Regions from separate parts of the Homo sapiens genome. Here region 1 is linked to region 2. The links come from fine-mapping of genetic effects on gene expression. A gene starts in region 2. The other region holds a variant in brackets. All regions are shown on one strand. Distances are from middle to middle.

Region 1 (4,397 bases), 80 kb before region 2:
TTCTGCAGCAAGGCCAGCAGTGAAGGTAAAATCTGGTGACAGCTGTAGCCGTGCCAGCCTCTGCTTAATGGAGGGCTGTAATGAGTCCCTGGGAGTTGGAGGGGCAGTGGTCAGACCACTTCCATCTGCTTGTGGTTCATCTTCACTCTCACATTGGTAACACATTCTTTCTTCTGCTCCTTGGGGGAAGACTTCATTTGAAGAATTATCTTTATTTTTACCTTCTAGAGAGTTTTCACATAAATACTCAGTCCTACTTATTTCATTGTCTGTTGTGGCGGATTTATTACTTTCCTCTTCAGTATCATTTTTACTGACTTTTCCCATATCTGAATTCATTGATGGTTCTGAATTACTTATGGGTTCCACTGGGTCTACAGGAGACAAGGATTTCAACACGGCTTCAAATAAAAAAAAAGAAAAAAGAAAAAAAATAACTAAGGACCTAGCAATGATTTAAACTTTTAATTCAAACTCTCAGTTTTTTTCTTAAAAAGAACAATAAATAAATAAAAGCTAAATAAAACTTTCTAGTAAAATCAATGAAAATTTATAAATCCAGGAAACTTTATAAGAGAGAAAATGCCTAAGAAATGAAATGAGATAGGGATTTGATGAAGGTTTTTATGACACCTCACATATTATCTTATTTAAAATATTAAAGCAGTGGTTCTGAAAGTGTGTTCCCTGAACCAACATTATCAGTTATCACCTAGGAATTTGTTAAAAATGCAAATTCTTGGGCCTGATCCCAGACCTCCTGAAATGGAAACTCTGGGAGTAGGGACCAGCTATATTTTACAAGCCCTCATCTTGATTCTGATACACACTAAAGTTTGAGAACCATTGTATTAGGGAATAAGCAGCATGGTTTTCACTGATAATACATCAGATAAAAGGCTTAAAGTAATCTAGATAATAATAATATCTTCCATATGTATACATATATATTTACAAGTTAAAACAGCATGGAAAAAAATGCAACATACAATTTAACTTACTTGCCAACCACCTAACAAGACCCTAATGAAAGAAAAGCCATAACTTCTACACATTTTGTAGTACCACGAAAAATACAAATGAAGTCTGCATTCAAGATCAACTATTGTACAAAATATAATACATAAATATAATATATATTCATACGGTAGAAGTTGTCCTTGCAAGGAAAATGCAGTTTTATTTAGCCCCTCTTGATGTTAGTAGGCAGTGGGTTGCTTGCTAGGCAGTCGCTCATCCCAGCATGAGGGGTTAGTACAATACAATATAGTATGAAGCATGACGGAAGGAAAAAAGTGCTTCTCGAAGAGCTGGCGTGTATTTAAAAAACGTTTTTGTAAAATGTGTCCACTTCCAGGAACCATCCCTAAGCTGCAGTAACTCCACTAGAGAAGCAGCAACAACAGAAAAAAAATGGCCACAGCAGGTTCCAGTGCAGACTTTCCCCCTCTAATTCCATGCGGACTTTACCCCTGTAGGCAGAGATGAAAACAGCTCTGGAAGATGTACTGAAATTTTTCATGGGAAAAGCATTCTATGGTATCAGCAGCTTTTTACTTATTTTCACAAACTAAAACAGCATTATGACCCTTTCCAATGTAAACTATATCAAAAGCACATACCTGAAAAAGAGACACATTTCTCTCATTGATAAATCTTTCCCATAATGTCAATAGCATAATTTTAAAGCTATATGAAGAAACACTAAACAATAAAAAAGGATATAAGTTTATATACAATGCTATTTTCAATATATGTACATTCTTAGTTTATAAATCTGTTAGCTCTTAAAGGAAGCAACATATATTAGAAGTTGGTTGATAGTTCACAATTATTACTAATTAAATGGGGTGGATATAATCTGAGTAATGAGAGGATCAATTGACGAGTGTGTTAGAATTTAAGCCTTGAGGCAGGTAGGAGGCTTTACATTTTGTCTCTTGATCTTTGCGCTAGGGATACAGCAGTAAACAGTGCCTGACATATAACAAGTACCTAATAACTACTTGTTGAATGAGTAATTTGCTGAATGAATGCTGTGGGATAATAAGGCCCCTATTTAAGAAGACTGTAATTTTGTTACAGAGACAAACAAAACAAAACAAAACAAAACCCTGAACATATAGAAAACAACAGTGCCTAAAATTAATCTCTGATGTATGTAGGCCCAGTATATGAATGAACAGATTGCAGGAAATCAATCTGTTAATCATTTCCCTTCTCTGCTATATGCTTTGGGGTTCAAGACTTCCTTTATATTTTATCACAATGTTCCTCTAGTGTGAGGGTCTGTAGTGTTAGGAGAGGCGGCAGAGCTGGAGCACTCAGAGAAGGATTCATGGAGAAGGAGAGACTAGTAGAGAGGACAGCTTGGTGGAGAAGGCAGAATTCTTGGTAAAGGGGTAAGCATGAATTATTATTATTATTATTATTATT[A/T]TTATTTTTTGAGAGAGAGTCTCACTCTGTCACCCAGGCTGGAGTGCAGTGGTGCGATGTCGGCTCACTGCAACCTCCACCTCCCAGGTTCAAGCGATTCTCCTGCCTCAGCCTCCAGAGCAGCTGGGATTATAGGTGTGCGCCATCACACCTGGCTAATTTTTGTATTTTTAGTAGAGAGGGGGTTTCGCCATGTTGGCCAGGCTGGTCTTGAACTCCTGACCTCAAGTGATCCACCTGCCTTGGCCTCCCAAAGTGTTGGAATTAGAGGCGTGAGCCACTGTGCTTGGCCAGCATGAATTTTTTTCATGAATAAAAATAACACATTTGTGAACTGTAGTTTAATTCGATAAACATAAGAAGATATCTATAGTAAAAACAGTAGAAAATATAATTGGATAGATGAATTCTTATGATGAAGAGACTTGAAAACAGGAAAAAGAGTTTAGATTCAACACAATAAGAAAGGGAGAAACCACTATAGGTTTTAAGATAGAGAGCCATCATCAATGCAGTGTTGGAGAAAAATCTGCAAAGAGTTTGCAAGATAGCTTAGAAGAAAAAAGTACTGAAAATGGAAGTCAGCTAAGAAGGTATTTTAATGTACAAGGATAATCTACTGAGGACCTGGGCTATAAAGGGGGCCAATGGGAAGAAAGAGGAATGATAAAACCAAGAAATGCAGATCTGGACAGGAGAAAACATAGGGCTCCTGAGGGGAAAAAAAAAAAGAGAACTGGAGGAACTTTCCAGAAGTATAGGTAATCTATGTACTTCTAGTGAGGAGGGAAAAGCAGGGCAGTTGATTTCGAGGGTCCACACAGATACTGTAAAATGGAAGAGAATCCACACTCTACCTACTTAGAAATCCATAGGCATTAATTCAACTAAGAATTAGCTAGGTTGATACTGTCAAGTATTAAGCTTCCCCTGATTCCTTCCCTGTCTCCCATGAAGTTTGACTTAAGAAAAGAAGGGTGAGAAACAGAAAGGAATGTAAGGCTTTTGTATTACCAGCTACCCCACTCTGCTGAAATCAGAGTATGGGGAGTACGCCCACAGGCACCCTGCTCCCCTCCCATCTACTAAAGTGCTCAAACCACTTAAATAATGCTAATGATGTGGCTCACTGGTCTAGGTTTTAATTCCTTTTTTTTCTTTTCTTTTCTTTTCTTTCTTTTTTTCTTTTTGAGATGGAGTCTCCCTCTGTTGCCCAGGCTGGAGTGCAGTGGCGTGATCTTGGCTCACTGAAACCTCCGCCTCCCGGGTTCAAGTGATTCTCCTGCCTCAGCCTCTCGAGTAGCTGGGACTACAGGCACGCGCCACCATGCCTTGTTAATTTTTGTATTTTTAGTAGAGATGGGGTTTCGCCATGTTGGCCAGGCTGGTCTTGAACTCCTGACCTCAAATGATCCACCCGCCTCAGCTTCCCAACGTGCTGATATTACAAGCATGTGCCGCTGCGCCTGGGCCATTTTTTTCAATGTGAGCACAGTTATTAATTTTGTGCTTCACTGAGGTATTTTTAAATATTTTAACATATGGACAACAGAGTTGAGAATCTCAAATTCACTAAATTTGAAAATAACATTTAAAATATCCCAAATTATTCAACTCACTGCCCATTCTAAAACAAATTTACTAAAAAATTAAATAACTCATAAAAAAGTATGACTTCATATTTCCAATGTGGTTACATTCCTACTCTTTTATTAATCAAATTGATTTAGCATCTAGAAGAAAAAGTACTATGCATACTGGTGGACCCTTATAAAACCCCAAGAATTCTTCAGCTAAAATAACATTCATGGTTCAAGAAAGAAAGAATCCCCTACATTGAAATAACCTGTTACTTTAAAGTCAGTGCTTACCATGATCACTAAATAGAAGTTGCTTCCACTTCTGCCTTTCTGCCTCTGAAGCTTTAAATCCCAGCACAGATTTTAATTCTTGGAGCACCC
Region 2 (4,397 bases):
AAGTGCTGAGATTACAGGTGTGAGCCACCATGCCCCATCTGTCCCGTTTCTTGATCTGGGTGCTGGTTACATGGGTGTGCTCAACATGTGAAAATATAACCATCCACACACTTGTGATCTGTGCCCTGTCCTTATGTAAATTATACTGCAATAAAAATTGTGTATATCAAAGAGCAAACAAACAGCAAACTGGAAATTTTTCTGCAAGTATGACAAAGGCTTAGTAATATATGAAGAACTCACGCAAGTCAATTTTTTTAAAGCTAGCATCTAATAAGAAAATGAGCAACAAATATGAAGAGAAATGTTCAAAGAAATAAAAATAGCTAATAAATGTATAAATGCATAAAATGTAAATTAAAACAATGGAATGTTATTTTTGCCTATCAAATTAGCAAAGATTAAAGGAAACTGTTAAGGCTGTTGTTGAGGATTTGGTGAAACCAATACTCTCTTATTCTTAATGGAAACCGGAATTGGTATAACCTTTCTGCGTAAGTCTTAAATGTTCATATTCTTTCACCCACTAGTTCTACTTCTAAAAATTATTCTGAGGAAAATCAGAGTTGTAGTTAAAAATAGGCTTATATCACTGTTGATTACAATGGTATTTTTTTAAAAAAAGGTTATATTATGATACACGTGAGGGGATATTATAATATTAATGTTTTCAGAGAATGATGAATGGGAAAAGATTCACGATAAAGTCAAGTGAAAAATATATACAAAATTCTACGTGGTATACCTTTTGTTTTAAAAAATATCACACACACATTGTGTCTTAATATAGAGGCTAAAAAATTACACACACATAAACACACATTTACATAGAAATAAAGTCTATAAGAACACATACCGTACTGTTAATAGTTACCATCTTTGGGTGGTGGGATAATGGATGATTTTAACTTGGGGGCTTATTTTCTACAATAAAATGTTCCTTGAGCATATATTACTATTATATTCAGAAATCAAAAATAATGGGTAAAAAAAATACACCCATCAGTTACCCTTACTCTAGAAAATATTTCTCTCTCCTTCAGCTACCACATTCAATCTATAAACATTGCCTCGATTTTAACTTACAAGTGTCTGTCCAAGCCATTATTCCATTACGTCTCTCATTTCATCTCAGGCCCTTGTCTTCCCTAATGAACGCCTCATATCTAGACTCTTCACTTCGGTAAAATGGCCACATTTTCCACTGCTTCTTCATTGCAGCCACATCAAGCCACTTTACATAGCCACCCTCCACACCCCGCCCCCTAAAAATGCACACCAGGTACTTTCACACTTCCCAAGCTTGGCATAATCAGTTCTCTTTCCCTGTAATACATTTTCTCCTGCCGGTTTTTCTAATCCAATTCATAGTTAAAGATTCACCTCGGATATCGCGTACTGGGTGTAGCCTCTGGGAGGCCGCAAGAACAGAAATTAATCCTTCAATGACAGTTTGTACATATTTCAACATTTAGCATTCTGTCCTGTCTGTGCCTCGCTCTCTCGCTGTATGGCATGGGCCACTTCATTTTTAAATTTTCTTAAAATCTAGTTGGATAAATGAAAGTAAAGCGTATACATGCAATACACATACGTACAGGGGTGCGAGTTTTGACCTGTGTCTGATGGAAAAAAATGGCATCAAAAACACTCGCCCGATTTTTTTCATTCAAGATGGCAGAGAACGTCTTAAAATAGTCCCACACAAAAGCACTCACATCTAGAGCCCCGAGTCAGAAGAACTGGCTACACCTAGCGCAACAGCAAAGGACAAAAGAATCGAATCTAGATGCTGAGATGCCCTGGCCCTAACTACCCACAGTAGGTCCCACAAATAGACTTTAAACCGTGTTAGAAAACGGGCACCTGCTGCCTTCATTCCGAGGGCCACGCCTTGACGGTGAACAGTGACCTGAAGCACTCTGGATACTGACCCAAAAAAATCGCGGATGGAAAAGGAGGAGGCTAAGTTGTGACTATCTAAAAGGCACGATTCGGCCCCGCCCCAGCCGGGCGCAGTCCCCCCCGCCGCACATCCATTCCCAGGAAGGAAGAGACACCGCTCCAGCCCAGAGCCTGGCAACCGGGCACCGTCTGGGAATTCTGGGCGGGCCCGAGATAGAGGCCGGCCACGGCCAGGGCGCCTCTGGCTACACCTGTCAGGCGACGACGGACTCTAGGCCCTGAAATCGCTGGGGTTCGGTGGTCGAGGCCAGCTGGAGCGCGTCACCCGATCCCTCGCCCCGGGAACGCCTTGCTTCCTCGATTTCCGTCTCGTCCTTCTCAAACAAAGGCAATCCACACCCACCGCCATTTTCCTCTTACCTCAAAAACCACCTCTTCGTCAAACTCCGGTGTCATCCTTCTCCGCCATGCCACCCGCCTCAGCACGATGGGAAATGAAGGCGGGAGTACAGGCGGCACGGAGCTCCAGCTCCTGCCCGTCCCGTGGGTCCAGAAAACTACAATTCCCAATATGCCTCGCCGCTCACGCCCCCTTTTCGAGCCCGCTTATTGGAGAAGAGAGTGAGCGTGTAAGCGAGAGAGGCGGGAGCGAGCTGAAGCTCGAGCCCTCCGATTGGAGGAGGCTAGGGCTTTTGTCTGCCTTTTACGGCCGCGACTAGCAGGGGGCGCCCGGAGCACTGCTGATTTTTGGAGCCCGAGAAGGGCACGCGCCAGCGGAGCCGAAGAGAGCACTGCTCGTGCCCGCGCCTGGCTGTCAGCCTGCCGCTCTGCGGGGCGGTGCTAGTGCTCGCCCGCCCGACCCCGGCGGCTCGCGCCCGGGAGCGCCGCAGGGTCGCTAGAGTCGGCCGCGTCCTTTGTGTGGCGCTCAGGCTGCGCCGCGGGGCGGCGGGACGGAATGTGGGCGCTGCGGGGGCTTTTCTCTCCTACCCGAACTGTGGGAACAATGGACTGAAAGGGGAAGATGGATTGAGGGGCCGAGCGGGGAAGCGAGCTGCACCGGGGAATCATGACTTCTGCAGCCGGTAAGTGACGGCGCTCGCGCTGCCGCGGGAAAGTTTGTGGCGAGCGCTGCTAGGCTTGGGCTCGCGAGCAACTTTCTTCGCCGGGGTGGGCGAGTTGTGTGCCCCGTACCTTTGCCGAGCACCTCGGCAAGCGCGGAGCTAATGGGATTCGCTGCCGGCTTTCTCGTCTTTTCCTGCCCAGAGGGGCTGTTTGGAAACCCGGGATTTCTCGGGATCTCCCTTCCAAGGGGGACTGTGCTGGGGGCTCTGCACCAGGTGAAATGCGATGTGTGAAGGGCGTTCGCTCATCTCTCCAGCAGTGCGAGGACTTCGCCTTTGCATGTGAAAATAGTGTAGATTCCCAAGTTAATAGATCAGTTATTATAGGTAAAGGCAGTGTTCTCAGCGTGTTCAATTTGGCCACTAAGTGAGTCGCTTTCAACCTTGTATCTGCTGGTAAACCTTTTACCCATTTTAAAGAGGCGTAGACATTGTCATGTCCTGGTGGTTTTACCTCTGTTACCTGAGAAGCAGAGGAGTTGAGATTGTTGAGGTTTTTTTTTTTTTTTTTTTTTTGCTTGTCTGCACCCAATTACAATTATTTTGTTTGTTTCTACCTGATTAGGGTAAACAAAGCTTTATTTTCTGTCTGCCTCCCATAGTTCTTTCCCCTTCATCCAAATGACAAAGCCTCTATCTTTGTGTGGATTTTCAGCAATTCTAGACGTTGTGTTTCTGAACATTCTTAAGGAACAATTTCTGTTTTACAAAATAATTACCAAAGTGGTGTTACGTTCACTTCGTAAGTACATAGGTTAATTTTTAAACCAGAACTTATGTATTAAGTAGAGTGTTATGGGTTATTTTACGTTTTTGTCCACGTTGAAACTTTCATTAGAAATTTTATAGTGAAATAGTTTAAAGCTTCTTCTCAAGGTTACTTCCAGAATCAGCACTTAAGTATCAGATTAAATTTTCATTGCTTTTCTTGGCATTTGTTTAAAATTCTTGCAACTTGAAACTGTCCAACAGCACTCAAATGTTCTGATTTGTATTATTTCTAAAGCCTAGATATATTGTAGTGTTGCATTGCTCCCTGTGATCAGATTACAACAAACGAAACAAGAAGTTAGCCAATAGGAAAAGAAAGCAAGAAGTGGGTGTTGTGTGGGTCTTTCCTTTTTGATGTTATATGCACTTATATGAGATATCTTTATAAACTCTCTTTTCTTTGCCAAAGGGAGGCTTTATACTTACATAAGGTAAATTATTTTCATCCTACATTTCTGTGCCTTACCTTCGTTCAAGAAATTGATTTAAATTAAAAGTGGTTGGAAATTTTAAAATCCTTCCAGCCAGTTTTAGCTCTTTCCTTTTTGGAGGTGTCAAATGTATTTAAAATAACCGTGTCTTATATGTATCAGTTTTCAA

The links. PIP is the estimated chance that this variant, and not a neighbour inherited with it, causes the effect. A credible set is the group of variants that fine-mapping cannot tell apart.
Region 1: its variant is the best candidate, but not a certain one, in a credible set for the expression of VEZT in whole blood (TOPMed, PIP 0.79).

What each region holds. Positions count from the first base shown.
Region 1 is chr12:95,296,169-95,300,565 of GRCh38, reverse strand. It overlaps VEZT (vezatin, adherens junctions transmembrane protein), which reads right to left. Exons shown (of 12, transcript NM_017599.4): 11 at 4,308-4,397; 12 at 1-401. Among named protein-coding and RNA genes, the nearest start is that of MIR331, 10 kb to the left of the region's middle. The variant A/T (reference allele first, on the strand shown) is at 2,437.
Region 2 is chr12:95,215,815-95,220,211 of GRCh38, reverse strand. It overlaps VEZT (vezatin, adherens junctions transmembrane protein), which reads right to left and starts at 2,405. Exons shown (of 12, transcript NM_017599.4): 1 at 2,326-2,405. The coding sequence starts at 2,361. FGD6 (FYVE, RhoGEF and PH domain containing 6) reads left to right here and starts at 2,745. Exons shown (of 21, transcript NM_018351.4): 1 at 2,745-2,987. The coding sequence starts at 2,972. RefSeq lists enhancers at 1,537-1,586, 2,187-2,426, 1,891-2,486, 2,487-3,081 and a silencer at 2,657-2,886.